Linked DNA regions of Homo sapiens. The protein of the gene in region 1 purifies or fractionates together with the protein of each later gene. This does not show direct contact. Each region holds a gene or a part of one and is shown on either strand. Other genes may lie near its edges. The genes, in order: KDM4C, ALDH18A1, CA2, SMCHD1, CSTA, RCC1 and FBXO22.

The links.
Region 2: the proteins of KDM4C (region 1) and ALDH18A1 purify together in Homo sapiens (affinity purification with mass spectrometry; one large-scale study listed by BioGRID and IntAct). This does not show direct contact.
Region 3: the proteins of KDM4C (region 1) and CA2 purify together in Homo sapiens (affinity purification with mass spectrometry; one large-scale study listed by BioGRID and IntAct). This does not show direct contact.
Region 4: the proteins of KDM4C (region 1) and SMCHD1 purify together in Homo sapiens (affinity purification with mass spectrometry; one large-scale study listed by BioGRID and IntAct). This does not show direct contact.
Region 5: the proteins of KDM4C (region 1) and CSTA purify together in Homo sapiens (affinity purification with mass spectrometry; one large-scale study listed by BioGRID and IntAct). This does not show direct contact.
Region 6: the proteins of KDM4C (region 1) and RCC1 purify together in Homo sapiens (affinity purification with mass spectrometry; one large-scale study listed by BioGRID and IntAct). This does not show direct contact.
Region 7: the proteins of KDM4C (region 1) and FBXO22 purify together in Homo sapiens (affinity purification with mass spectrometry, with the first as the bait; one study listed by BioGRID). This does not show direct contact.

What each region holds. Positions count from the first base shown.
Region 1 is NC_000009.12:6,756,348-6,761,308, reverse strand, and holds the start of KDM4C (lysine-specific demethylase 4C), read right to left. Parts: upstream 3,337-4,961; 5' UTR 3,106-3,336; intron 1-3,105.
Region 2 is NC_000010.11:95,635,924-95,640,123, forward strand, and holds part of ALDH18A1 (delta-1-pyrroline-5-carboxylate synthase), read right to left. Parts: intron 1,514-4,200; coding exon 1,364-1,513; intron 1,275-1,363; coding exon 1,170-1,274; intron 1-1,169. UniProt on the Homo sapiens protein: Bifunctional enzyme that converts glutamate to glutamate 5-semialdehyde, an intermediate in the biosynthesis of proline, ornithine and arginine.
Region 3 is NC_000008.11:85,473,702-85,477,901, reverse strand, and holds part of CA2 (carbonic anhydrase 2), read right to left. Parts: coding exon 4,091-4,200; intron 3,579-4,090; coding exon 3,486-3,578; intron 2,105-3,485; coding exon 2,042-2,104; intron 783-2,041; coding exon 627-782; intron 1-626. UniProt on the Homo sapiens protein: Catalyzes the reversible hydration of carbon dioxide. Can also hydrate cyanamide to urea. Stimulates the chloride-bicarbonate exchange activity of SLC26A6. Essential for bone resorption and osteoclast differentiation.
Region 4 is NC_000018.10:2,801,610-2,805,705, reverse strand, and holds the end of SMCHD1 (structural maintenance of chromosomes flexible hinge domain-containing protein 1), read right to left. Parts: intron 3,179-4,096; coding exon 3,154-3,178; coding exon of another isoform or gene 3,071-3,153; 3' UTR 689-3,070; downstream 1-688. UniProt on the Homo sapiens protein: Non-canonical member of the structural maintenance of chromosomes (SMC) protein family that plays a key role in epigenetic silencing by regulating chromatin architecture.
Region 5 is NC_000003.12:122,331,333-122,335,532, forward strand, and holds part of CSTA (cystatin-A), read left to right. Parts: intron 1-4,200. UniProt on the Homo sapiens protein: This is an intracellular thiol proteinase inhibitor. Has an important role in desmosome-mediated cell-cell adhesion in the lower levels of the epidermis.
Region 6 is NC_000001.11:28,529,627-28,533,826, reverse strand, and holds part of RCC1 (regulator of chromosome condensation), read right to left. Parts: intron 3,970-4,200; 5' UTR 3,961-3,969; coding exon 3,888-3,960; intron 3,305-3,887; coding exon of another isoform or gene 3,212-3,304; intron 2,025-3,211; coding exon 1,837-2,024; intron 1,657-1,836; coding exon 1,477-1,656; intron 1-1,476. UniProt on the Homo sapiens protein: Guanine-nucleotide releasing factor that promotes the exchange of Ran-bound GDP by GTP, and thereby plays an important role in RAN-mediated functions in nuclear import and mitosis.
Region 7 is NC_000015.10:75,927,436-75,931,635, reverse strand, and holds part of FBXO22 (F-box only protein 22), read right to left. Parts: intron 1,753-4,200; coding exon 1,587-1,752; coding exon of another isoform or gene 1,550-1,586; exon of another isoform or gene 769-1,549; intron 1-768. UniProt on the Homo sapiens protein: Substrate-recognition component of the SCF (SKP1-CUL1-F-box protein)-type E3 ubiquitin ligase complex that is implicated in the control of various cellular processes such as cell cycle control, transcriptional regulation, DNA damage repair, and apoptosis.

The DNA.
Region 1 (4,961 bases):
GGCCGGGCACAGTGGTTCACACCTGTAATCCCAGCACTTTGGGAGTCCAAGGTGGGCGGATCACCTGAGGTCAGGAGTTCGAGACCAGCCTGAACAACATGGTGAAACCCTGTCTCTACAAAAATACAAAAATTAGCCAAGCATGATGGTGGGTGCCTGTAATCCCAGCTACTGGGTTGGCTGAGGCAGGAGAATCGCCTGAACCTGGGAGATAGAGGTTGCAGTGAGCCGAGATCGCGCCATTGGCACAGAGTGAGACTCCATGGACAACAGAGCGAGATTCCGTCTCAAAAAAAAAAAAAAAAAGACATCCAGGAAAGGAAAACACAGCATTAACCATAGAATAAAGCCCCACTTTAGAGAACTGGAGAACTGAAGTTGGCAGTGGAATAGGGAAAGATCAACAGGCCCCTTCAAGGCTTGAAAGAGTATCACCAAGCCAGGCACGGTGGCTCACGCCTGTAATCCCAGCACTTTGGGAGGCTGAGGTGGGCAGATCACGAGGTCAGGAGATCGAGACCATCCTGGCTAACACAGTGAAACCCCATCTCTACTAAAAATAAAAAAAAAATTAGCCAGGCATGGTGGTGGGTGCCTGTAGTCCCAGCTATTCAGGAGGCTGAGGCAGGAGAATGGTGTGAACCCAGGAGGCGGAGCTTGCAGTGAGCAGAGATCGTGCCACTGCACTCCAGCCTGGGCAACAGAGTGAGACTTCGTCTCAAAAAATAAATAAATAAATAAATAAATAAATAAATAAATAAATAAAAAAGAGTATCACCCAAGACTAACTATCCCTCCTTACGCATGCAGTCATTCAACAGATGTTTAACCTAGCAATTACATTATATATATATATATATATACCCAAGAGTAGAGAAAACACGCGTCCACACAAAAACTAGTTCACAAATATTCATAGCATTACTCAGCCAAAAGCAGAGATAACACAAATGTCTACCAACTGATGAATAAACAAAATGTGATGTATCCATAATAGAATATTAGCCATTAAAAGGAATGAAGTACTGATACAGGCTGCAACATGGATGAACCTTAAAAAACATTATGCCAAGTGAAAGAAGTCACTCACAGAAGACCAGATAGTGTATTATTCCATGTATATAAAATGTCCAGAATAGCCAAATCTATTGAGACAGACAGCAGATTAGTGGTTGCCTAGGGACAGAAGGGGATAGAATTGGAGGGAACTAGGCAATGACAGCTAATAGGAACAGAGCTTCTTTTGGGGATTAAAAAAATTCAAAAATTCATTGTGGTGATGGTTGCACAAGACTATTCATTTACTAAAAGCTTTTATTTATTTATTTATTTATTTATTTATTTATATTTTTACTTTTTTTTTTTTTTGAGATGGAGTCTCAGTCTGTCACCCACGCTGGAGTGCAGTGGTGCCATCTCGGCTCACGGCAACCTCCACTTCCAGGATTCAAGTGATTCTCTTGCCTCAGCTGGGATTACAGGCGCCTGCCACCATGCCTGGCTAATTTTTGAATTTTTGGTACAGACGAGGTTTCGCCATTTTGGCCAGGCTGGTCTTGAACTCCTGACCTCAGGTGATACACCCGCCTCGGCCTCCCAAAGTGTTGGGATTACAGGCAGGAGCCACGGCGCCGGGTCTGATTTTCAACTTTAGAAAAGCAACTGACTAAAGTCTGTTAATAAAAAGAAATAAGTCTTCGGTTTAAATTGTACTGTATTACCAAGTTTGCGGGATACTGTAAAGCTTATGTGAAAACTTTTCATAACACTGAAATTGGGAGAAAAAGCACCTAAAAAACCCGAACAACCGTGTAATCCGTTCCAAAACAAACTATGGGCGGGTTGCGCGGAGGCCAGCAAGGTAAGAAAGCAAGCGATAATCGCAAAGCAGAGCCGACTGCTTCCTAATAAAAAATGGACCTTTAAAAATTAAAACCACTAGTTTTCAACCACAACACTTCGAAATGAGAATATTAGTCACCGTTGCCATAGAAACAGTAAAGCCAAGCTGCCCGGAATTTAGACATTTTTTTAAATACCGCAAACTGAAATGGGTGAAAATAGGGCAGAGTTTAGTGTGAACCTAAGTGGCCGGAACCTACTAGTAACTTTCACCAGGATAAAAGTGACTCTGCTTTTCTAACCTACATTTCCGAACAGTGCTTTATAAATCACCTCTCGGGGTTAGTTTATCAAGCGCAAAAAAAAGTTTACCTTGTCTCTTCCGGAAGAAGGAACCTGACAAAACCCCTCCCGGTAGTATTGCCCACAATCAGAGCCAGCCAGCGCAGGCTTGCACCGCGCAGCAAAGGGGGAGCCCAGCATCAAGTCCACGCGGAAAGCATCTGAATCCCGGCTGCTGGCTTTACTGGCGGAGCACAGAGGAAAACCCCAAGCTCCTGCCTACAGCCCCGGCCTGTCTGGCTCCCTCCTCCACGTCCCCACTCCACGCCACGTTCTGTGCCTGGCAGTCCACGCGCCCTAATCCAACTCGCATTTATTTAAGCACCCGCCGTCTACACCGCATCATGGTTCCTCCAGGCACTGCAGGAAGAAATGGCCCCATGCCGGGGGAAAGAAACACCAAAAGGACAGCCGCGAGGGCTGAAGACGACCCCGAATGACGGGATGACTGCCTGCAACGGGTGGTCAGGAGAGGAGCTCCCACCCTCACCCCGCGGGTCGTGACACTCCCAGGGAAGGGAGGGCCCCGAGGGGTGCACCAGGCCCGGCCTTCCTGGAGTCCGCCACAGCCGACTGGCGGCGTTAAGAGGTCCGCATCCCAGGACCGCCCGAGCGCTCCTCTGCCCCAAGGAGGCGACCCCGACTCCGGATCCCGGGAAAACGGCGAGCGCGGGTACCGAACCTCGGTAAGGGCCGGAGCGGGCTGTCACCGGCCCCCGCATCCCTCCCCTGCGGCCGCGGCCGGCCGCTCCCTCCCCAGCTTGACAGTCGCTGCAGTCACGGACGGAGCGTCTCTGCCCCAGCGTCGCCGCTCGCCCGGACGCCCGCACCCCCGTGCCCCACGCGGAGGGGGGCAGTGCCGGGAAGACCTCTCCGGACCCTCCCCCCGCCCTGGCCCCCAGACTCCGGAAAAGCGGTTACCTGGCGCGCGGGTTGGGGCGAGAGCACGACTCGGTGGAGGAGGAAGAGAAGACAGTGGCCTCCGGCCCAGGGAGATTTGGGAAATTTGGGAGACTTGTTCCGCACTAGGTGACAGCTGTTCGCTGCGCACGCGCACAGGACCCCGGCCGCCCGATCACTGCGCCGCGCCTCACCCTCCCGTCGAGGGGGTGGGTGGGAGGCAGCGGCGAAGGCGCGCGCACCGCCGGCTCTCCCTGCGCGAGGGCGCGCGCGCCGTCACGTGACCGCTGGGGCCCGCACTTGGTGAGTCACGTGGGCTTACAAACAGCTTAAAGGTGCCCGGCACGCTCTTGCTTTGGGCTCAACTTCCGCGCTGTGGTTAACTTAGGCTTGCTGGCGCGCATCTTCTTGTCCTTTGGACACAGGCATATCCCATTCTTTCCGGAGGGGAAAGATACTCGCGTAGAAGGAGAAAACAGGTGCACAGAACCTTGCCCGGAAGCGCTGGCTGGGGTCCCGCAGGGCTGGACCTGATGTAGTCCACGCGCCACACGTCCTCCTGGGCGCCGACGCGCACCTATGGCGGCCTCCGACGCGCGGACGTCAGCGTGGCGTTACCGGGGTGGAGCCTCGGAATGTACTGGAGAGCCTGGCGAGAAAGTCGGGGCTCGCAGCTCTCCGGCGATGACAGCGCTGTGTTCCCGTTCTCCCTTCACCCGGTGGCCGGGACCACTGAGCCTCCTTCCCACAATGGGAGATCCCGAATAGGCGAAGAGTATCTTCGTGTCCCAACCCTTTAACAACTACCGCGCAGGAGCGTGTCAGCCTCTGGAAGCAAAACTGTCCGGTGTTGAGTCACCTACACCCAGCACGTCCCGCCCCGACCCGCCCAAGTGTGCTCTTAAGATAGGGAGGCACAAAGGTGACCCCAATAGGAATCCTGGGCTGGCGGTCCCTCAGAAACTAGAGTTGATAACAGTTTGGCCAGAACTGAAGTGACTAGAAATGCAGGTGCCTCCAGCGTCTGAGACTAGATAAGTTAACTTCCTACAACTTGTTGCTTTTCCTCTGTAACTCCGCCTTCCGAGGTGTCAGAAGGAACCAACCAGACCTTAAGCCCCTGTACTGCCAAAGACAGATGGTTGAGCATCAGATGTTTTGCAAAGCTGAATGATTTTTTTTTTAAACTTCCTACAGAGCTCCCAGCTGGGTCCCTTGTGGCGTTTTCTCTAACGTCTTAGCTAAGAAAGATTGGGCATATCTTCACACCAGTGAGCAAAGTTGGGCTAATATGCTGAATTTTCTGTTACATTATACTGATAACAGAATTTTAAAAATATATCGACACCGCTTACCACGCGCTTGAACTCGTTTCTCACTGGGGTGAACATTGTGAGGACAGATGGAATGTGATTAATTGAGCTAAGGCTAACGGGATTATTGGGTCACCATATTTCTTTAGTTGTTAAAAACAAAGTTCCGCTACACACACAGACACACTCTTTTTTGAGACGGAGTCTTGCTGTGTCGCCCAGTTTGGAGTGCAATGGCGCTATCTCGGCTTACTGCAACCTCCGCCTCACGGGTTCGAGAGATTCTCCTGCCTCAGCCTCCCGAGTAGCTGGGATTACAGTCGCCCGCCACCACGCCCAGCTAATTTTTGTATTTTCAGTAGAGACAGGGTTTCGCCATGTTGGCCAGGCTGGTCACAAACTCCTGACCTCAGGTGATCCGCCCGCCTCGGCCTCCCAAAGTGCTGGGATTACAGGCGTGAGCCACTTCACCCGGCCACACACAATTCTGAACTTGGCTAACGTATACTCAACTGGGAATTTTCCAAATGTGTGCATGTAACGTCAGGATCCCAACCATCCTTA
Region 2 (4,200 bases), on another chromosome or scaffold:
CATTGGACTGTGAAGAGAAACCAAATAATAAAGAAGAGTGATATAAATAGAGATTTATACTGTATTTATACTAACAGAAAAAAAGCTAAGACTACAGAAAGTGGGGTCCCCAGCCATAGGCAATGGGACAAGTCCGTGCCTTTCTGTTTTACCTCACTGACTTGAGGACACTCTGGTGTAATACCAGAACATCACTGTGGGTACAAACAGGCAAATGATGGAGAAACAAAAAAAAGTAACAGGAAATGAAGAAGCAAAACCTGAAACAATATATGTATATATAACAATATCACCTGTGTAAAATAACATCTGTGCATGTAGTGTACATGTAAAATAATATCCATAATATAAAATAACAGCTATTTTACATCTTTACAGGTAAAGGAATTTCAAAATAAAATAATTTGGGAGTTAGATTTTTTTTTCAGTTGTTTCCTGAAGTGACTGTTATTGAGATGTCTCTAGTGTGTAGTTGTACAGTTGATTAAGAATATAATTCAAAAAAATTCAGGAGATTTAGGTAAAAATGAAACAATGTAGAAAGAAGGTTCTAGAACATTTAGGGGTAGCCACCAAAAATTCGTAAGTCCCATGAGGACTGGAATCATGTCTGATTTGTTCACCACAGTATCCCCAATGCCCAAGACTGCTAGGTACACCATAGGTGCTCAATAAATATTTGCTGAATGAGTGAAAAACCAACCAATCACCAGCATTCCTCTTTCCCTTCAAAGCTTAATAAATATCTGCTATAAAAGGCAACCAACCAGGTGCAAAGAGAAGCAAGCCACCTGAAATCAAAGAAGCCAGTGAAATAAAGACATTTAACTTCTCTGTCTTCAGAAGTGTTAGCACTTGGAATCCTAAGTTATTAGTGTAACAAGAACTGATATTTACTGACAATGTATTATGTACCAAACACTATACTAAATGCTTTTCATATATTTTCTCACTGAGCCCTTCCAAAAATTATCTGAAATAGGCACTGATATTATCCCCATTTTCAGATGAGGAAACTGAGGCACAAAAAGGAAAAGAAACTTTCTTCAGATCTCAAGTAGCAAGTGATGAAGCTGACACCATATTCCAATAGTCTGGCTCCAGACCCCTTTGTTCCACAACAACCACCCTCACAGGTCCCACACCCATTTCAAAGCCCAGCCTCTCACCTGGGCAGCACAGATGCTGTACTGGGTAAACATAGCCTCATACAAGGCCATCAGCCCACTCTGTCCGGCAGCTGCACAGGCTCGTGCCTCTAAGACTGGAATTGCCTGTAATATACCAATGAGACAAGGTGTGGTAGGGAATGAGGGAAGAAGACCTGAAGATCCATTTCAATGTGTGGGGAAGCAGCACTCACCATTTCTTTCAGCTGGTTCTGCCCCGAGTGGAGGGCCTGCCGCACGCTCTGAGACAGAAGGATCTCATGGCGCAAGCGTTGTTTGCCAAAGGCTACGGCTCCACTGGTCACCAGCATCATCTCTCTGCCCTGATTCTGCAGCACTGATACCTGGGCATTGAGAAAGGAAAGGGGACTGTAAGTTACCGTACTGTCTCTTTCATCTCTTCACAAGGGATGGAGGTAGGGTGGGCTATCGAGTAGATCCCAAATGCTGGTTTATGAACCAGCATGTGGCTGGCTCTGGAAGAATCAGCCAGATTGGTAAAAACACAGATTCCTACATCCTGTCTCAAATTTCTATTTAGCAGGTGGCAGACAAAAATCAGACATTTTAATTTATTTTTTAATTAAAACAATTGGCTGGGCATGGTGGCTCATGCCTGTAATCCCAGCACTTTGGGAGGCCAAGGCAGGCACAATGCCTGAGCCCAGGAGGTTCAAGACCACCCAGGCAACATGGCAAGACCCAATCTCTACAAAAAGTACAAAATTTAGCCAGGCATGGTAGTGCATGCCAGCTACTTGGGAGGCTGAGGTAGGAGGATCACCTGAGCTCAGGGAGGTTAAGACTGCAGTAACCCATGATCGCACCACCACACTCCAACCTGGGCAATAGAATGAGAGAGATGCTGTCTCAAAAACAACAACAACAACAACAACAACAACAACAACAACAACAACACCCTAAGAAAAAAATTTTTTTAAGGCAGAGTCTTGCTCTGTCGCCCAGGCTGGAGTGCCGTGGCATGAATGTGGCTCACTGCAGCCTTGGCTGCCTAGGCTCAAGTGATCCTCCTGCCTCAGCCTCACAAGTAGCTGGAACTACAGGCTCATGCCACCATGCCCAGCTAATTTTTCTTTTTTAACACATTTTTGTAGAAACAGAGTCTCACTATGTTGCCCAGGCTGGCCTCAAACTTCTGGTCTTAATCCATCCTCCTGCCACGGCCTCCCAAAGCATTGGGATTACAGACATGAGCCACCATGCCTGGCCTAAGTAAGACATTTTTAATGAGGAAATTCTGGTGTGTAGCCAAGTTTGACATCTATAGGACTTGACTGTATTAGGTTGGTGCAAAAGTAATTGCAGTTTTACCATTGACAGTAATGGCAAAAACCACAATTACTTTTGTGCCAACCTAATATTTGCAGGGAGTGTGTAATGCAGAAGGCCTAGTTCCTCCAAGAAATGAAGCCCAGAATAAAAGTCCGCAGGTAGGAAATGCAACGCAGACTCAGTAGATGGCTTCTCAGGTTCTAAGGCTTAACCCGGGTAAAGGAGGCTGTTCTGGTGGCATGTCTAATCCTATGGGTTGCCTCTGCCTACACCAGGGGCACATGCTGACCTTGTTCTGCTCTGTCTGCCCAAGACCAAATGCGGTCACTTTGTTTCCTACCTTAAGCAGACCTACATGAAAAAATTAAAGACTCAAGATGTAATAAAGTCAATATTCCTAAACTGTCCTTTCCTTCTGATGTCTGAAACCTTTTAACTGGTCCAGCTGTTTAACAAACAGCTATGATAAACCATGATTTAAAACAATAATAACTTTTTTTTTTTTGAAACACAGTCTTGCTTTGTCACCCATGCTGGAGGACAGTGGCACAATCATGGCTCACTGTAGCCCTGACCTCCAGGACTCAAGCAACCCCCTGACCTCAGCCCCTTGAGTAGCCACCTTGGCTTCCCAAAGTGCTGGGATTACAGGTGTGAGCCACTGTGCCTGGCCCCGACAATAATATTTTATCACAGAAAGTTTCAGCTGGCTGAGGTGGGACGACTGCTTGAGGCCAGGAATTCGAAACCAGCCTGAGCAAAATAGTAAGACCCCATATCTATGAAAAATTAAAAAAAATAATAGCCAAGTAGCATGTGCCTGTAGTCCCAGCTACTCAGGAGGCTGAAGAAGGATCCCAACTGAGCCCTGGAGTTCAGGGCTGCAGTGAACTATGATTACACCACTGCATTCCAGTCTAGGTGACAGAGCAAGACCCTCTCTCTAAAATAAATAAAAAGAAAAAGAAAAAGAAAATTTAATACTTAACCAAAGTGCTGAGAATAGTATTATAAATCCCCATGTACATACCACCCAGTTTCACCAACTATCTCTCATGGCCAACTTCCCACTCTCCAATAACCCCTCTATACCCTCACCATTGTTTTAATACAAATTCCAGGCAACAGACATGTTATTTCATCTGTAAATAGCTCAGTAATAACTGCTAAAAGATAATCATATATATTATATATAATATATAATTATATGTCTTTCTCTCTCCACAAATCCATTATCTGGAATATTTCAATGATTTCCTTCATATCAAATAGCCAGTGTTCATATTTTTCCAATTTTTTTTTACCTTGCTCAAATTGAGATGCAAATTAAACCCTGCATTACAAATTAATTGAAGTGTCTCTCAAGTCTCTTTCATTCATGGGTTCCCTTCTCCATCAGTTTTCCCCCTTGTAATTTTTTGTTAAACTGAGTTGTTTATTCTTTAGGATTTCCCAGCCTACATTTTCCCAATTGTGTCCTTATGGTATTAATACTGCTCTTTGTATACCCTATAAACTGCTGTTTGGTATGAAGGCTTTTTTTTTTTTCCCCAACAAGTCTTTATAAGTTGTGGTGTACATGTTCATCAAGGGGATACATAATGCCTGGTTATCTTTCTTTTTGTGATGTTAGCATCTGTTGATGATCATTGCCAAGATCCATTATTCCATTAGGAGATGCAAAATGCTGACACTCTAACTCAATGATTCCTTCGTCATTTATAATCTGGAATAATTC
Region 3 (4,200 bases), on another chromosome or scaffold:
CGCTAAGAGGTAAGTCTAGGAAAAACTCATTTGTATCCACTTTAGTGGCTGCTCATCAGTGACTTAGAAGCTGCACTAATCACTTGACGATCACACACTATATTTTATTGGAAATGTAAGAATACCTGCTCTAAGCCTCTAAAGCAACCTGGAGTGAGTTTTAATAGATACATGTTCTCCAAGGGATGACTCTCATCTGTCAGGATTCAGAAATGCATTCTGATATAAATAAAATAGCAGAAAGCCCTTATGTGAGTGAGTAGTAGGCTGGTAACTCACTGATACCTGCGTAACCTTGAATATGAACTCTCACTTTTCTAAGCCTTAGTTTCCTCATAACTGGCAAAAAAAAAAAAAGGCATTTATTAGGTGACAGACATCTTTCTCATTGAATCCTTACAATGACTATTCAATTTTAGAGACTAAACGAACTAAGTTTATAGTTAATAACAACAAAGATTTACTGAACGCTGTTTATTTGCTAGGCACCATCAAAGGCACTATTTCCATAGCAAGAAGTAGCAGGAGAAGGATTAAATCTCAGTTCTCTCTCACTCTGGAGGCCAAGGTCTTCTGCCTTGACTAAATGCTCCACCCGTAAACAGACCTGTCATTACAAAACAAACCTGCTCGCTGCTGACGCTGATGGGTTCCTTGAGCACAATCCAGGTCACACATTCCAGAAGAGGAGGGGTGGTCAGTGAGCCTGGGTAGGTCCAGTAATCCAAGGATTCAGGAAGGAGGCCACGAGGATCGAAGTTAGTGAAGTCAGCACTCTTGCCCTAGAACAAGGCAAATACGCAGCTTCAAACTATCACATTGACAGAGTAGGAGGAAGGTAGGAGAGCAGCAGACACAAATAGGTATACTCCCCTCTGATGGTCAAAAACACTTTTTAAAAAAGAGGTTCTATATTCACTGGCAAACAAAATAAAGAGAAATTAACAGAAGACATTCAACTTGAAAATATGTGGCAAGTCGTAGTAAAAAAAAAAAAAAACTATTTTCACATGTCCATTTTTCATCTTGGCCTTTTATCTAAAATGATCCCTTACATTCCCCATTAAGTCATTAGCTGATCACACCCAGTATTTAAAGTGAGACTGCTGCCACTAAAATGAGGTGACTTCAAGTTGCAATAACAGAAATATGGTATCCTGATGAGGAGGTGATTTTCTTGCTCTAGGTCAGAATCAAATAACTACATTCTGTTTTGGACACTACACTTTTCAAGCAAACAGGAATGATTTACTGGAAGAATGACAAGGTGGTGGCAAAGAGAGAAAACTATATCATATGAGAATAGTTAAAGGAAACTAAAGATAATTAGTTTGGGGTAGGTGAAAAAACAAAGTAGAGACAGAGTAGAGTTATTTGGAAGAGAGATCAGGTTTATTCTATGAATTCAAGGGGCTCAAGCCAGTGAGTGAGCATTTCAGAGGATAGATGCTGCTTCAATGTGAAGATCAGCTTTATAAAGCCAGGGCTGCCCCTGGTGATAAGTTCCCCATCACCGGAAGTGACTGTAGTGTTTAAACAGATGCTCAACGACCTCAACACAACTATGCTGCAGAGAGGATTTAAATGCAGGATGGATGAATGCAAAGAGGTCATAGAATAGAAATCTCCATGAAACAGGGCCTTGTTTATCTTGTTCACCATTGTGTCTACTAGTTTGCAAAGCGACTGGCACATAGTACATACTTAACAAATATCTGCTGTATGAATGAGTGAATAATTTGACTAGAGGACCTTTGAACCTCCTTGCAGGCATAAGATTCTCTGACTCTTACATATGGATGTCCAAATGATGGGGGAGCAAGATTAAATAAATACAAGTCTTAGAATTATGCTAGCATTAGGATCAACTTTGTTGAAAGAAACGTTAATTAAATATTTAAGTAATATTCTACCTTTACTAACTGCTCATCCAAACACCACATGTCATTGAGACTGTGCAATTTGATCAAAAGAAATTTCTAAAACCAATGGAGTATTGAAAATTGGTACCCTAAGGAGGTGGCAGAAAATTCAAATTTACCTTTGTTTTAATGGAATCCAGCACATCAACAACTTTCTGAAGGCCCGGTTTAGCGCTGCCAACCTAAAGAAAAACATAAAGGGCAAGATACTATCACCCAGTTGGTACTGTACCAGTTTTTATTTTTATTTGGGTAGCTCTATTAGAAAACATCCAAATAGTGAGCCCAAATTCTCCACTTCATACATGACCCCCATCAGTACTGGCTTGATGACACTGACACCATAGACTTGCCTACTTTCACTGAATCTTCAACTCGCCTCTAATTCCACTCAGAGAGTAGTCCTGAAACCACCAGCTCAATTGTCCCCAGTGACCTCTAACTGCCAAAGGATACTCCTCAAGGGCTTGCCTTGATTTCCTTGTAGGACTTTACACTATGGTCTTCCCTTCTTTTTAAAAATTATTTTCTTCTTTGGCTTTCCCTACGCCTTCCAGCAACCCAAATCTCTCTTGACTCTCGCTTTTTTTTTTTTTTTTTTTTTTTTTAGAGTCAGAGTCTTGCTCTGTCATCCAGCTTGTAGTGCAGTGGCATGATCATAGCTCACTGCAACCTCAACCCCTAGGCTGCAGTGATTTTCCTGCCCTGGCTTCCCAAGTAGCTGAAACTACAGGTGTATACCACCATGCCCAGCTAATTTTGTGTTTTTGTTTTTGTTTTGTTTTTTTGTTTGTTAGTTTGTTTTTTATGCCCAGCTAATTTTTAAAAAAATTTTGTAGAGATGGAATTGTGCTATGTTGCCCAGGCTGGTCTTGAGCTCCTGGCCTCAAACTATCCTCCTGCCTTGGTGTCCCAAGGTGCTGGGATTACAGGCTTAAGCCACCACACCTGGCCCCTTTTAAGTTGTTTAATTTGCATCTCTCCCCTTGTAAAGGCCTTACATTTTGCAGTTTCTCAGGATTGCTCCCTGGGCAGATTTCTCATCTCCCTCTTCGTGCTGTACTTGGATGATTTCATACACACCTGTAGCTTCCACCTCAACATATGAATCAGAGCTCATAAATCTCCAGCCCAGACCTTTCTCCATTCCCCTTTACCACTGTTTAGAGGGCAGCTCAACCGGTTCTGTCCCACTGTTGCCTGAAATTCACTGTCCTTCCCCTCTTCAGAACCTGATCTTACTTTATCATAATATAGTACTGTCTAGCCTCAGGTTAAATGAAAAGAAAACAAACAAACACCTAGCAGTCACCCAAGTTGATCTCTTTATGTTCTTCACATTTACATCCAAAAGGTACCAAATAAGTACCTCTCCTATTGTCTTTCTGCCCTCCATCTCCACTGCAACTAGCAGATATGAAAGGAGGAGATAAACTTGAAAACATTTCAGGGACAAAGGCATTTCCTAAGCTCTTTTGTAGAATGTCCTGTATGTTACAAATACTCTGTCTGGTCATTCTTTATTAAAAATAGGGAAAAAAAAGAATTGGGTCATCAACTAACCTTCAAAAAAATACCTAGAACGGCCAGTCCATCAGGTTGCTGCACAGCTTTCCCAAAATCCCCATATTTGGTGTTCCAGTGAACCAAGTGAAGCTAAGGCCGAAGAGACAAAGCCACAGTGAGTGATTTACATAATCAAAGCTGACAGATTTTATTCAATGGTCTTTTTCTCACAATAAAGGTTACTCAGGAAATTGAAAATATGGATAATTTTAAATCAAAATTTTCCTTTCATTTTAATTCTAATCATCCACACAGTACTTGGTATAACAGCAAGTGTTTTCATCAATAACTCTAAGACAAATAAATGTACAGTTTTGACAGAAGGCACACATTTTATTTCTAAATTTCTGTTAAAACAGGATCCTCCAGTTTGAGTCCGTTTACTTTTTGCAAATGGTGGAGTTGGAGACAGTAGAGAAAGTTTTGCAGCGTTAAGTATGATGTCACAATTAAAGGTTATAAAAAGCAAATGTGAAGGTCCTTTGTAAAAGAAGTGGTTCACTGGGCGTGAGTTGAATTTACAAATTAAGCTTTTGAAATTAATGCTAAATATCAACTTATAAACATTTTTCCCTGGAAAGAAAAAAAAAAGTATATCTTACTTCTGCAGCATATTTCTTTTTATCCACAGTATGCTCTGAACCTTGTCCATCAAGTGAACCCCAGTGAAAGTGAAACTGAATCAATCTGTAAGTGCCATCCAGGGGTCCTC
Region 4 (4,096 bases), on another chromosome or scaffold:
TGGGGAGAAGACGGCTCTCACCTGGCCACACTGACCCAGGACTTAGTGCTAGCAAAAGGCAGTTGAAGGCAGGACAAGAATCACTACAGTCTCGCTCCTTTCGGGAAAAAAATTTCTGGCTGGGAGATGGTGGGATAAGGAACCCAGCGTTTTTGGCTGCGTTAGTCTGCTTGCTGAGCTTGGAGGTGGAAGTGAGTAGTCAGTCTTGGTTCAAACTACCACAGATTCTCATCTTCCTTACTGAATTTTTGTAAATGTTCTTGAATAGATGTTTCTTCATTGCCATTTGTCCTCAGGACCATTTCCAGAAGTTTTAAATGGTTGTTTTTAATATTTTTCACCAGTTTCACAGTATGAAAATTAAACATTCAATTTTTTTACTAAAATGTATTATTTGAAAATTCTATACTAAAAATACAATGGAATTAACCCCATCAATTTCATAATGACTATAAAGTAATCAAGTCACAGAGCCAAAGTATAGACAGTTTAGAAGACTGAACTTTCCTTAGCACTAATATTTAACAATAGGAGCCAATTTCACTTAAAATAATCTGAATGTTATATATGCAACAAATTTTAGTCTCTGTAAAGAATCTTATACCAAAAACCCTATAAAAATGTTAAGTAAATTGAGCCTATTTTTACCATAGGCCTGGCCAAATGTACACATGAAAACTGATGAACGTAATGTGCAAAAAGGCTTGGAGAGAGTTTTATTTCAGTTACTTCAAAATACAAGTAGGCTATTATTTTCCTTTGGAAGAAGAAACCAGAAAAAAAACTTCCTGATTGTAACATTGTGACAAATTTCAGATTATATAACACATAACACAGGATAAATGGCTGTAGCATTAATTTTTTTCTCCAGTTACATTCCTTTATACTAAAAGACTAGTATTAAATCTTAGAAGAAAATTTCAATTGTTCTTACGTGTTACATATTAAACACAAAAGCAATTTATTATTATTTGGTACAACATGAACCTCAGTATTTGCTCAAATGTAGAAAAGGATTCCTTAATATGCTGAGAAATATCCTTAGATAAATCCAACTGTGAAAATATAGAAAAACTCCTTACTGTAATTACTGGGAACCACAAAGTTAATTTTTACAGGGTAGAAAAACTCCACAAAAATGGAGATTCATACTTAAAAACCTTCTTTTACTGATAGAACATTCTTTCTGGTATTATAAAATGAACAAAAGTGTACAGATATGGGCTTGGGGCTAGATAATATCCATAGAACTCGCCATTTTAAGCAATAAAAATTGGCATGTGGGTGCATGCCTGTAATCCCTGCTACTTAGGAGGCCAAGGCAGGAAGACTGCTTGAACCCAGGAGTTCAAGACTAGCCTGGGCAATGTAGTGAGGCCACTGTCGCTCAAGGGAAAAAAAGACATGTTTTTAAACACACTTCTAATAAAAAGAATTTTTAAAACCAACTTTTTTGCTTCTAGATAGTCTCAATGCCTTGGATTTAAAACATGACTCCTTCTTGATACAATGAATTATAAAAGCAAACTAGTTCCACATATTAATTATACGTTCAAGTCTAGTTCCTAAAAAGTCATTTCTCTTTAACCTTTCTTACCTATCAATCAATCATTTTCATATAATCTAATGTCTAAGGACTCCAAATATTGGTACGGGGTGAGTATCCCTAATCTAAAAGTCAGAAACAAGAAATGTTCCAAAATTCAAAACATTTGAGCGCAGATATGACACATAAGGGAAATGCTCATTGAAGCATTTCCAATTTCTAATGAAAGATTTTTGGATTAGGGATGCTAAATTGGTAAATATAATGCAAATATTCCAAAATAATAATTTAAAAACCCCACAAAAAACCAAAATCCAAAACACTTCAGGTCCCAACCATTTTGAATAAGGGATACTCAACCTGTAGTACCATGGGAGCCAATCTTCCCCACAGCTAATTCTGTAATTACCATTTTGTTTCTTCTGTAACAACAAACAGTTTAAATAATTTCCAATTATAAAGATAGATAGGTTAACATCATCATCGTTTTTTAACAAGATAACTTTTATGAAGCTTCCAATTTTAAAAAAGAAAAACACTTATCTATTCAGTAGGGAAGAAACAATCTTATTTATTAATGGCCTGCATATTTAGAAAGGGTTTAAAAACACATACATTTCCTGGGACACAAACTTACTTACCAAATGTATGTCCTTACAAAATAACTTCACAGATCAATAGTCTTGAACTTACACAAAGACATATATATGACATACATTAGGTTAATATACATTTCAAATGTTTTTGCAGCAACTTTCTACCAGAAAGTACACTAATGTGAGAATGTATGTTCTCTTTAACCCCTTAAAAATAGTAATAAAAAATTACAAAATAATGTAAATGTAAAATTAAGGCTGAGACTACATATTCTAGTATTAATAAAGTCAAACAAACAATAGTTATAAAACTTGGTGCTGCTGAATATTTTATATATATATATTTATATATATATATATATATACACACACACACACACACAGGATAAGTCTTTTGAAATTTGAAATGCTACCACTGTCACAAGTTCACTCATTGATTTAATGTTGTTCTGGGTATCTTAACATTTCAATTCCCAAATACCTGTGCTTTTAAAATTTTTATCCTGAATTCTGCATTGAGTTTCCTCACATATTTACAATTAAACATCTAGCCTCTAGAACCTCCCTTACACAAAAGACAAAACATCTTTGTTAAATAAATTCACGCAAAAGTAATAAAAAGGTTTTCAAGAAATAGTTCTGACATGTTCATTATATTTATACTGAAAAATAGTACATGTACTTTTCTTCAGGATTAATAAATGCCATGTGCCAGTTTTACAGTCACTGCCACATTAGCACATTTTCCTCTTACACATTTGCAAGGTAGTGACAACCAAAGGGCATAATGTCTGGAATAATTCCAGTAAATCCATAATGTCCAGTAAGATTCATAAAATTGAATGGTTGTTTCCAGTCCCATCTGAATCGAAATGGAAATTCATGCCCAGGTACTTGTATTGTCCCCAGAAATACTCAGTCTGGTAAGTCACCCTCTTGGTCTTCTGAAACAGAGATGCAGAAAGCAGGGCATTCTTACTGAGACCAATGGCCTCTTCTCTCTGTCACCTCTCATACATCTGTTTTGGTTATAATCCTGGTCAAAGGGGAAAGAAAAAAAAGTTTTATGTACCAAAGGTTTCCTTTCCCTGAATTCCCTCATCACACCTGAATGCTTAAATATCCAATGAAACCATATTCTTTTAAATATAATTCTTGGTATAAACAGATTTAATTAAATCCTTATATATAATCATTTCCTTCACATGTATGCAAAACAAGCCCCCAAATAAAAGTAGTTAACACACACACAGTATATAACATATATAAGTAATTTGTATCACAGTGCTTTGAAATGGTATTATCTCAGACCTAAATTCTGCAGATTTTTCCTTTCACCCCCTTTTCCTTAAATGAACTTATTATTTTAAGAACAGGAATTATAATGCTTATTACAGAAAAGTAACAAAGACAAGCAAAATAAAACATTTAATATTCATAATCTCATTCATGTAGAGATGAACACAGTGAGCACCTTGACATATATAGCTACAGATTTTAAAAATTCAGGTATATGTAAATATTTTCTAATAGTTCCCTGAACTATCTCCAAATAGAAGATGATACATATTTTTAACAGAACTAATTTTTAATCTTTATAAGTGGAAAATTATTTAGAAAACTGAAGCCTCTATTCAAGAAAACAATGGAATCTACTGCATAGTATCATATATTGCTAAGCATATCTAATGAATTCTAAGATATTTTTTCACACTTAACATCTCTGAAATCCAGATGTACTTTATAAGGTCATGAGTTAATTTGCAATATTTTTCTTTAATGTTTCATAAAATGACATTTTTATAGTTAATGAAATCTTAAAGTTGATGAAACATAGTATGTGATCTATAAGCAGTAACAAATATATATTCAGTATACATATGTAAATAAAAACATAAACATAAATATACAGAAACACATATAATGTACCTATTTCCTTTCCTACTATTAAATT
Region 5 (4,200 bases), on another chromosome or scaffold:
TATTAGTCGCCTCTCCCACTGTCCCACACCCAAAGAACCTGTCATTCAGCCACACCAGAATCCTTCAGGCACCTACCTTCCCAACTTCATGAGAACATGCCCAGGCCCACTGAGTCTCTCATCCAGCCTGGACCCCATGACAGGAGGGTAGCTTCAAATACTCCTCCACTCATGATGATTTCCTTGACCCTGGGAGCTCCTGACATTCTAATTCTCAATTAAAGGTCACACCCACTGCCACCACTTTCTATGCAGCTACTACTGTTCCAGAATCAAAGAACTTTGCCAAAGCGAGGTGCAGAACCACAGAAAACTCACCATTACAAACCTGTGGATTAATGCTTAACAACCCGGACAGGACCCAGGGCTGCCAGAACATTCTTGCAGTCATATTTGTTGGTCTTTTTCTAGAAACCCCACAAATGTAAATCTCTCTTCAGTTGTTCATTGCCTCCCACCCCCATGGTCCCTCCAGCAGGATGTCTCAGTTCCTACTCTTCTTAGGCCAGCTGTCCCCAACCTTTTTGGTACCTTTGTGGAAGGCAATTTTTCCACAGATGGGGTGGAGGGGATAGTTTTGGGATGAAGCTGTTCCACCTCAGATCATCAGGCATTATTTTCTCATAAGGAGCACGCAACCTTGATCCTTTGCATGCAGTTCACAATAGGGTTCCCACTCCTATGAGAATCTAATGCTGCCGCTAATCTGACAGGAGGCGGAGCTCAGGCCATAATGCTCACTGGCCCACTGCTCCCCTCCTGCTGTGCAGCCCGATTCCTAACAGGCCATGGATGGGTACTGGTCTGCAGCCCAGGGGTTGGGAACACCTGTCTTAGGAGATTGCAGATCTCTGGTAAGAAAATGCCCCAGCTGACCCTATCTCTTGCTGGATCTCATTCCTCCCTAGACTCTATTCTCCTCTCTTCAGCCAGTCCTTCCTCTCTTAGCCAGGTGACTTCATTTCTTGCATCCTCAATGCCTTGTCCCATACTTCCTTCTTCCTTCAAAACATACTTAGACAATAAATGTCCACAAGTCACATCTTACTGGCCCTACTGTCCTTTCATGTTACTATTCAAACTCTCCTTCCTTACTCTCTAAATCTCCCCCAAATGTAATTCATCCACTTTGCCATCAATATCTTTCTATCTATTTTCTATTAAATTAGGCACAGTCCTATTGTTTCTGTAGAATGACTACAGATTAGGGGAAAAGCCTGAGTGTTGGGTGCCTCATGGCTCAAATCCTCAGATCTCAGAGAATAAACACCTCACCAAGATTCATGCTCAGTAGCAATGAGAAATGCTTGAAGAACTCTGGGTTAAATGCATTATACCAGGTGCTTCTCCCTGGTAGCCTCCTCCCCGGCTGGAGACCAAGCGACAAACCTCCACTGTATTCCTTGAGCTCCCGTCACCATCACGCGTGGCAGACTGAGAAAGGTGAAGGCCAACTGCATTCAGCAGGAGATGTGTCCGTTCACCGCCAGTCTCCCACCACCGTTCCCAGCTGGCCTGCATCCTCCTAGTGCCCATCCTGGGGAGTCTTTCAGCACCAAGCTACCTTCTGAGACTTAAGTTTCACTGACAAGCTCCCCTACTCTGCCCCTTTCCCTGCTCCTCAGCTCAAATCTCATCACTCAGGTCCATGTCATCTAACATTAAACCATGCAAATCTATTTTACTGGGAAGAGGGAGGGAGGCTGCAAGTTACAAGTAGAGTGAACCAGAAATCAAGGTCCACAGTCTGACAGGTGCCAGAACACTTCAAGAAACAAACCAGATCTTTTAAATCCCCTCTCTCATGGAAAATTCTGCATTTGTGGATTACACAGATACGATGGAAAAGTTAAAGATTTGGATATATTTCTAGGACAGATAGAAATAAAAACTTAGGGCCAGGCATGGGGGCTCACCCCTGTAATCCCAGCACTTTGGGAGACCAAGGTGGGTGGATCACCTGAGGCCAGGAGTTTGAGACCAGCCTGGCAAACATGGTGAAACTCCATCTCTCCAAAAATATAAAAAATTAGCTGGGAGTGGTGGCAGATGCCTGTAGTCCCAGCTACTCATGAGGCTGAGGCAGGAGAATTGCTTAAACCCAGGAGGGAGAGGTTGTAGTGAGCTGAGATTGTGCCACTACACTCCAGCCTAGGTGACAGAGCAAGACTCCATGAAAGAGAGAGAGAAGAAAGAAAGAAAAGAAAGAAGAAAGAAAGAAAGAAAGAAAGAAAGAAAGAAAGAAAGAAAGAAAGAAAGAAGAAAGAGAGAGAGAGGAAGGAAGGAAAAGGAAAGGAAAGGAAGGAAGGAAAAGGAAAGGAAAGGAAGAAAAAAGGAAGAAAGAAAGAAGAAAGAAAGAGAGAGAGAAAGAAAGAAAAAGAAAGAAAGAGAAAGAAAGAAAGAGAAAGAAAGAAAAGAAAAGAAAGGCTGGTTGGCTTAGGATACGTGCTTAAAAAGAAACATGACTGAAAAGCAGAAGGAACACAGATCAGATATATAAGTTATCATGCAAGGACTTTAAAATAACTATGTTGAATAATTTTTCAACTTTAAGCAGTCATGCTCAACTCATAGCCTTACATTCTCCATTCATAAAATGAGGTTTAAATGGATACTTTGGGGGTTAGTGTAGAGATTAACTCTTTCAAACTCAGCTCCTAACTTGACTGGTGCCAAGTACTGGCCATCCCTCCTTTGGAATTTTGAAAGGCTTTGGAAAGGGACCCTAAGACAATAACCTGTTTCCTTACTCTACTTCTCTGTGCATCCTTTCTCCGCTCTCCTGCCCCTAGCTCTTCCCACTTCTGGTTTGTCCTCACTATTTGTCTTCTCCCTTTCTCCACTTTGAAATTTCATTTCCATCTCAACAGAACAATCACACTTTTCCCGTCTATTCTCAAGGTTACAGGAGAACTGAGTGGTGGTCCGTGGAGTGTTTGGCCTTTCAGAAATGGTCTGAGAACTCACAGTTTGCATATGTCTACATCTTTGAAAACAGTTCTGGTACTCAAACTGAGGCATCAGTAGTAAAGGTTCAAAACATCTGCCCAGGGAGGATTGTTTGAGTCCGGGAATTCGAGGCTGCAGTGAACTATGATCACGCCACTGCACTCCAGCCTGGGTGAGGGGGAGATTCTGTCTCTTAAATTTAAAAAAACAAAAAACAAAAAAAACCTGCCCACTGATAGGAAGGACTGCCTTGGGAGAATCCTAGATGGACTGGAGGCCTGATTGAAGTTGTATGGACATGCAATGCTTTCATGAAGGGCATAAAAGCAAGTTCTCAATAAACAAGGTACATTCAACACAGAGAGTTATATCCTTTTTCCTCCAAAAGACAGAAAAGAATTGGGGTTGAAGGACAAATCCACAGACATAAAGACAACAGGAGATAGGCAAGTACCACCTCAGAAATACCAATAAAATTTTGGAAGTTGGAAAACAGATGAACAATGGAAAATGCTGAGCAGTCTAAACAGAAGCTAAGCCCATAGAGGGGAAAGTCTAAGCCAGAAGCAAGCAGATTCACACTGCAGAACGTCACAATGGCGCAGGCATGAGCAACACCAAAAAGTCGTAGCCAGGAGTAAGGTCTCAGACCAAAAGCAAGAGGACTGATCTGTATGAAGGACAGTGAGACCTCCCATAGTTCCTTCTCCCTCACTGTCCTCCACCCCGGCAGAAGACGAGCTTTACACTTAGCAGGAACTGAGTCAAGAGCTCATAGTAGACTCTTGCATATCAGGCCCAGCTGAGAGTGGGAATGAAGCACTGTACAGAAAGTTGATGGGCTCAGTAAAAGTTTACATATTGAATTTGGGACTGTCTCCCTTCTCATGCTGGGTTCGGGAATGCTGACATTTAAACCCAACCCATATCCCTCCATGGTAGACAGAATGATGGCCCTCCAAAGATGTCCATGTCCTAATCCCTGGAACCTGTGACTAGGTTCCTTTACACAGCAAAAGAGACTTTGCAGGTGTGATTAAGTTAAGGCTCTGGAGATGGAGAGGTTATCCTGGATTATCCAGGTAAGCCCATGCAATCACAGGGTCTTTATAAGAATTATACCCAAATACTGCACTCTAGTTAGTATATTGTTTTCCACAGGGGTATAGGTCAACAATTCTGAAATTATTTTATGTATATGCTAGAACTGAGAAAATAGGCGAATACATTGCAAATAATAAGAACCAGGAT
Region 6 (4,200 bases), on another chromosome or scaffold:
AAAATATAATTCTGATATTCTGATTACTTCCTTTTTTTTTTTTTTTTTTTTTTTTTGAGACAGAGTTTCGCTCTTGTTGCCCAGGCTGGAGTGCAATGGCGCGATCTCGGCTCACTGCAACCTCCGCCTCCCAGGTTCAAACAATTCTCCTGCCTCAGCCTCCCGAGTAGCTGGGATTACAGGCATGCACCACCATGTCCAGCTAATTTTGTAATTTTAATAGAGACAGGGTTTCTCCATGTTGGTCAGGCCGGTCTCGAACTCCCGACCCCTCAGGTGATCAGCCTGCTTCGGCCTCCCAAAGTGCTGGGATTACAAGCATGAGCTACTGCGCCCGGACTTCTTTTTTTTTTTTTGAGATGGAGTCTCGCTCTGTCCCCTAGGCTGGAGTGCAGTGGCGCGATCTTGGCTCACTGCAAGCTCCGCCTCCCGGGTTCAAGCCATTCTCCTGCCTCAGCCTCCCGAGTAGCTGGGACTACAGGCACCCGCCACCACGCTTGGCTAATTTTTTGTATTTTTAGTAGAGACGGGGTTTCACCATGTTAGCCAGTATGGTCTCGATCTCCTGACGTCGTGATCTGCCCATCTTGGCATCCCAAAGTGCTGGGATTACAGGCATGAGCCACCGCGCCCAGCCCAATTCTGATTACTTTCATGTGTTTGAAATTCTCCATGAAAATTTCAAAATAGATGTGATAAGGAAACACCCATCAGGCCGGGTGTGGTGGCCCACGCCTGTAATCCTAGCACTTTGGGAGGCTGAGGCGGGTGGATCACCTGGGGTCGGGAGTTCGAGACCAGCCTGACCAACAGGGGAAACCCCGTCTCTACTAAAAATACAAAATTAGCCAGGCGTGGTGGCGCATGCCTGTAATCCCAGCTACTTGGGAGGCTGAGGCAGGAGAATCACTTAAACTTGGGAGGCAGAGGTTGCAGTGAGCCAAGATTGCGCTATTGCACTCCAGCCTGGGCAACAAGAGTGAAACTCCATCTCAAAACAATACAAAAACAACAACAACAACAACAACAAAAACCCACAATCTGTTTTTTCAACTACACTCCTCTGTACCTTGGAAACTCTGAGATGCGACAATCCCTGCCTCCACACCTCCTTGCCCCATCCAAGCCTCTGGGAAGTGTGGAAGAGGCAGTGCTGGCAAGGTGAGGGGGAGACAGAAGTCAGGGAGATGGGTGAAGACAGCAGGCCTCCTGGATCAGCCTCAACCCAGGGACATCCTTGACCCACTCACTTCCCAGGACAGACACTTGATGACATCGGATTCAAGGAAGCAGCCAGTGGCGTGGACAGGCCCACATGAGGAAGCTAGAGTCCTGGGTCTGGGCCTCAGCTCTACCTGTGGGCTTTCATCTCCCCACCAGTAAGTACCATGGGGGCATGGAAGTGGATTATCTTTGGGGCCCCGCCAATTAATTCTGTCTTTCAGGGACCATGCAGACTTTCAGACCCAGCCTTACCCGGAAGGAGCCCCAGAGGAAGACACGGCCATCATCGGTGAGGGCTGCTGTGTGACTGTCTCCTGCTGACACCTGTACCACCTTCTCTTGCAGCTCCACTTTCCCAGGGACCATCTCCGAGCCCTCCACTGATGTGTCCCTTCCCAGGGCACCCTCATCATTGCAGCCGAAGGAATAGACCTGTGCCCAGGATGCCCTCATTAATGCAACGTCTGGCCTCGCAGTCCATTCTCATGTAGGCCACTCCCCACTTGACTAGCCAGCTCCATTTCCACAGTGAACATGCGTGGTTCAAAAGCCCTGCCCCAAGCCACCCAACCCCAGGCCTTGTCCAACCCTGTGCCAGTCCCCAACACCTACCTGGCCACTTTTGCTTAGACACACGGTGTGCATGCCCCCAGCCTCAGCCTGCACAACATCCTCCGGAATGGATACCAGGGCCGGCTTCTTCCTCTCCATCACATTCTCACCCAGCCCCAGCTGGCCCACGTCGCCCTGGCCTAGTGTCAGCACCAAGCCGGGTTCTGTGCTGTGGGACCTGTGTGAGACTGAAGGGTGAAGAAGATAGACCCTGAGTGTAGAGGATGACGACAGCGAGGAGAGGTCACAGGCTCTGGGATCAGACAAACCTGTGCAGAAGCCCCTGCTCTGCCACAGACTGTTAGTATGAACTTTCTAAGTTTTGTCATCTGTGAAATGGGGACAACAAAAGTACCTCTCTCACAGGATTTTTGTGGAGATTAAGAACTGAGCACATTATTCACGTGAAAGGGGAGAAAGGGAAACAAGGAGACACTGGATACTGTGAAATGAATCTTGGTGGAGAGGGCAAGAAGGGCTGGGTGCGGTGGCTCACACCTGTAATCCTAGCACTGTGGGAGGCCAAGGCGGGCGGATCACTTGAGGTCAGGAGTTAAGAGACCAGCCTTGCCAACAGTAGCCTGTAATCTCAGCTACTCAGGAGGCTGAGGCAGGAGAATCACTTGAACCTGGGAGGCGGAGGTGGCAGTGAGCCAAGATCGTGCCACTGCCGCCTCCAGTCTGGGCGACAGAGTGATACTTGATCTCAAAAAAAAAAAAAAAAAGAAAAAGAAAAGAAAGCTAATTATTGTTATTGTTATTTTGAGACGGAGTCTCCCTTTGTCGCCAGTCTGGAGTGCAGTGGTGGATCTTGGCTAATTGCAACCTCTGCCTCCCGGGTTCAAGCGATTCCTCTGCCTCAGCCTCCTGAGTAGCTGGGACTACAGGCGCGCGCCACCGCGCAAGGCTAATTTTTTGTATTTTAGTAGAGACGGGGTTTCACCGTGTTAGCCAGGATGGTCTCGATCTTCTGACAGGCGTGAGCCACCTTGCCCCGCAGAAAGCTAATTATAATAGCAGAATCTGCACCGAAAGCAAGGGAGACTACGTGGGTCAGAGAACAATCCCCAGTCTCCATCCAAGCCCTCCTCCATGCCCAAGCCGTCCGCCAGTGAATAAGTTCAGCTCCCGGGCAAATCCACTGCAGAAACGGACTCTTCCCTCCACCATCCAGTGGAGAGGCAGGAGGGGCGGGAGGAAGAGCGGACAGCGGCATTTGCGGGAGGTGCGCGCCCGGGGCTCTCTGTGGGCCAAAGGCGGCCCCCCAACCCGCAGCCCCGGGCAGCCAATGGCGCCCAGCCCCTCCCCCGAGGATGTGGCCACCGCTGAGGAGCCCGCGCTGGCAGCACAGAGGGCGCCCCGGGCGCGGAGCCACCTGGTCGGGTTTTCTGGTCAGGAGGGCTCGGCCCGCAGGCACCTTGGCAGGAGCGGGCGCCAGGAACGCGGCGGGAGGCAGCGGCCCTCGTGTCTGCAAAAGACAGACACTGTCTGAGCGTGGGTCCACACTTCCCCTCCCAGTTTGGTGCTGGCTTTTCTCTCCTCCCTGTCCCCCTCCGGGGTCCCAGGACAGAGGAAACCACAGCCACCTCCCTCAAATGCTGCCAGGCCATTATCTCATCTCATCCTCACACAGCCCAGAGAGGGTGACGCTGCTCTGGCTGCCGCCATTTTAAGAAGTTGATAATCCAAACTGCGGGATTAAGTGACTTGCCCAGCAGCTAGAAAGTGGCAGAGCAAGGACTTGAACCCATGTCGGAAAGTCAGTGGTCCTAACCATAATGCATCACTGCCTGGGGTGAAGCCCTAGGGTCTAGTTTTTTTTTTTTTTTTTTTGTGCCAGTGCTGCCTGAGTGCTTTGAGAGGAGTTTCTGCCCACTTTGTGATTCCCAGAGGGTAGGATTCAATGAGCTACAGGAAACCTTCCAGCTGGGTGGGGTCTCTGCACATCCACACCCTTCAGCTTCAAGCCTCAGGAAGAAAGGAGCCCAGTCCCGGGTTCTTAGGGTTTCAAGGGGCCACCTGTACCCACAAAGAGGCCAAGGCCAACTTACCCTTCACCTTCTTGCTTTTGGGGATGGCATCTGCTGGGGGGGACCTTCTTTTAGCTATGCGCTTGGGTGACATCTTCCTGTCCTGAAAGTCAGTCAAATACTACATATGAGAAATGGCAAACATTTTCCTGGGCCAATCAGACAATATTTATCAAACACTCTAGAAATACGTTAAGAGGAATTGCCCAACAATTCCACTTCTCAAAATGTATCCCAAGAACAGAATAATGGATGCACCCACAGATTAATTACACAAATATTCTCTACTGTATCCTTCATAACATTTTAAAAACAACAAAAACAGAACCCGAAT
Region 7 (4,200 bases), on another chromosome or scaffold:
ATGGGCAAGAGTCACTGGATTAGTGAGAAACTAAGACGCAAAAAGGTTAAGTGACTAAAGTAATAAGGCTAGCTAGTAGTAAAACAAGTTTGTGAGGGGCAAAATCCGTCTTCTGAAGTCCTCTGCTGCTCTTAAAACTTTATCACATTTCCTCTTTGGTACAGAATTGTTAATATACATTGTCAATCTTGCCTCAAAGAATTATACATCTTCCTTTTGGGGCACTGGGTCAGTTGGGTTATCTGGACTTTATTAAAATGGAGCCCTCATTTACTCAATGGTTTCTCTTAACCACTGACAGAGTATGAAGACCACATTAAAATTAATGGGTCATGTGAAGAGTAATGATTGGGGTGGGGGGTGTTTCTCTTATTAGGTATAAAAAGTAGATGATATACAAATAGCTACACTTACAAGCTAGCACCTCAGATGTTATAAGTCTGAGTGAGGTATCTGCATTTCAAAGGTAAACTGTATGTTGAATCACCATTGCCCTATCCGTACACAATTTAAGTTAATAGCAAAGACACAGGAAAAATTAGGCAAGAGGGGAAATAACTTAGATAGCCACCAAGAATTCAGTGTATGTATGCACAAAATCCAGTGTTTGATATCCTGCCTGGGATTCAACGTACTTGGCCTTCCTCTCTTCCTCCTCCCTGGCAGTCCAGGGACCTCAACTTTAGCTATTTTCCCAGATCTAGCTCATAGAGATAACCAGAAGAGAGACTATAACTAGGATGACTTACATTATTCTTATAGATACTGATCTGCAACAGTCTGTCCCCATGTCACCACTCTAGGATGCAAATATTAAACAGAGTGGGAAACAAATAGTAGTGTTTACAAGCATTGAGGGTGGGGTAGGGTCTGATTTTCCTGCTGGAAACAAATGATATTTATGTCCACCTAATTGTTTCAAACTCAAAATGATATGTATTTTCATTCAAGATGGAAAGGAAGTAATGGCTCCCAAGACAGAAGAGCAAATATTTTTATCTTTGAAAGCAAAAGCCTTAGTAACAAAAAAGATCCACAATTTTTAAGCTTGAAAAAGCCTTTCAAAAGATCTAATACAGAATTTCCAAAAACCAGTACGACTTGCAAGACATTCTGTGGAAAAAAGTTTTGTGACCAAACACATTTGGGAACTGTCACAGGTAATGCTATTCTCCTTCCAGATTTCCACAGCACTGGGCATATTAGAAGCTCTGAGAAGTTTTGCCATAAAGATACACTCTAACCATGTGTTTCCTTTAAAGGAGGAAACTAGAAAGGAGGTGACACATTGAGGTCACACAGAGTACCACATCTGTCAAAGGAAAGATCAACAGGCAATGTCAAATTTTAAGGAGAATGTGACTCAAGGAAGTTCTTGAAGGACAATATATATAAAAATGTAATTATTCAACCGTAAGCAGAATTATGTTCAGTAAGCCCCTTAGCCAATGTCTACTACAAAATGGAATGAACTATTATCTTAATAATTCTTTAAACACGTTTTTTAAATTGTTAACCCCAAAGTGACAAAACCTGAGACCATTTCCCTTCATTCACAGACGAAATCAGAAGCACACAAGACATACTTTTCAGAAGTCAGTGATGACAGGTTGTCCACCTGGCCTCCAGCCAAGATGATATTCATATCACTGAAAGTGCTGACTACTTGCTGCAGATAATTACTGGCTCCCACCTTACAGCAATTATAACCAAAGACAAGGACCACACGAAGTTCAGGGTTATCTAAAAGACCTGCAGAGAAATGAAGAGCAACAGTTAAAGACAGCCTTAAAACAGAAATTATTTTATACATGCTGCAAAATGAAATGTTACTGACTTGCACTCCACCTTAAGGGCAATTTAGTGGCTTAAGCTATCAAATTTTCCATTTTTTATTTTTTATCTTATTTTATATCCTCTTCGATCTCTGTATCAAGTTTTCCATTTTTTACAAACATTATGCAAAATCTTAATTATTTTTTCTATTAAAAAAACTAAATGGCTATTTGTGTTAATAAATAATGCAATCAACACAAATAATGAAGCAGCTATGTACTGAGCAGCAACTCTTGGTAGACCAAGGTGCAAGCTGGCTCTCAGTAGGGAACAAAAAAAAAAAAACACTGGTTTACACAGAGCTGTGCTAGCAGCAGTGAGAATTTACAGATTTTTTATTTTTTAAAGGAGAGAAAAGGCGCTAACCACTTATAGTGTGGTGAACAGTGCCCCCTGCCCATGCCAAAGGTATATCCACATCAAACCTCTGGAACCTATGCATGTAAGCTTATTTGGAAAAAGGATCTTTAAAAAAAATTTTTTTTTTTTTGGTAGAGATGGGGTCTCGCTATGTTAGTAAGGATCTTAAGATTAAATCATCTGGTCTATCCACGTGGGCTCTAAATCCAATGACAGTGTCCTCATAATGAAAGATGTACAAAGGAGAGACAGAGAAGAAAAGGCAGTGTGACCACAGAAGCAGAAACTGGAGCGGTAGGAAGAGAAAAAGAACAGACTCTCCCCTACAGCCTCCCAAGGTAGCACTACCCCTACTGCCATCTCAATTTCAGACTTCTGGCCTCCTGAACTGTGCAGAATAAATTTCTCGTTTTATGTCACCAAATTTGGGGTACTTTGTTACAGCAGCCTAAGAAACTACTACATCACTGAAATACAGGCTTTATTCACCTCCTCCACGGAAGCAGGTGAGAGTAAAGGCGAATTAGCCTTTGAAAGTTCCTTGCAAAGCAGGAAAATGTTCAATTCTGTGACACAGGAACTAAAAGCTGCTACCGCTAGGAGGTGGCAGAGTGTAACAGAGACAGCCTACTTGCTCTGCCCACAGCTCCCAGGTTTCACTGGAGCCTCTGGCAGCTTGTTTATAGACTATCAATTTGATTTTTTTTTTAAGTTCAGGGATACATGTTCAGGTTTGTTCCACAGGCAAACGTGTGTCATGGGGGTTTGTTGTGCAGATTATTTCATCACCCAGGTAATAAGCCCATTCTCCATTAGTTATTTTTCCTGATCCTCTCCTTCCTCACACCCTCCACCCTCTGGTAGGCCCCAGTGTCTGTTGTGCCCCTCTTTGCGTCGATGTATTCTCATCATTTAGCTCCCACTTATAAATGAGAACATGCAGTATTTGGTTTTCTGTTTCTGTGTTAGTTTGCTAATGATAATGGCCTCCAGCTCCATCCATGTCCCTGCAAAGGACGTGATCTCATTCTTTTTTATGGCTGCATATGTACTACATTTTCTTTATCCAGTTTATCACTGATGGGCATTCAGGTTGATTCCATGTCTTTGCTACTGTGAATAGTGCTGCAATGAACATACATGTGCATGTGTCTTTATAACAGAATAATTTATATTCCTTTGAATATATACCCAGTAATAGGACTGCTGGGTCAAATGGTATTTCTGTCTTTAGGTCTTTGAGGAATCACCACACTATCTTCCACAATGGCTGAACTAATTTACACTCCCACCGACAGTGTATAAGTGTTCCTTTTTCTCCACAAACTTGCCAGCATCTGTTATTTTTTGACTTTTTAATAGCCATTCTGCCTAGTATGGGATACGATCTCATTGTGGTTTTGATTTGCATTTCTCTAATGATCAGTGATGTGGAGCTTTTTTTCCTATGATTGTTGGCCGCATGTATGTCTTCTGCCAGCATTACCAAACGGGTGCTTTGGGGACAGGAAAATGAATCTAATACCTAACACACTTGTGTTTCCATTTGATTTGACCACATGACTTCCACCTTGACAAACCTAAGGTGGTTACCAGAAAGGAGAGTTACTTAAGGAAACAAAGGGTATGCAGATGCGTGAATGACCAATTACTAACACCAAATAATGACCTATTCTGGGAAACTGCCTCTGGTCCATTTCCAATTCTCTACACAGTAAATTACTGACTTGGACAGTAAAAAGAATATTACTTTCATGACATCATATACCCCAAACCATTGCTAAAGCATCTTTTTTCCCTTATAGACTAGCCCACGAAATTTTAAGAGAATATATTTTCTTCTTTAGAACAAAGTTTCAGAGTTGGGAGAGGCCTGTGAGATCAAGTCTAGAGTTTTATTTTACAAACAAGGACTGCCAATGCCAGAGAAGTGACTACTACCCCAGGACAATATAATGACAGACTCTACATTAAAACCCACATCTCCTGACACTCAGGGCTTTA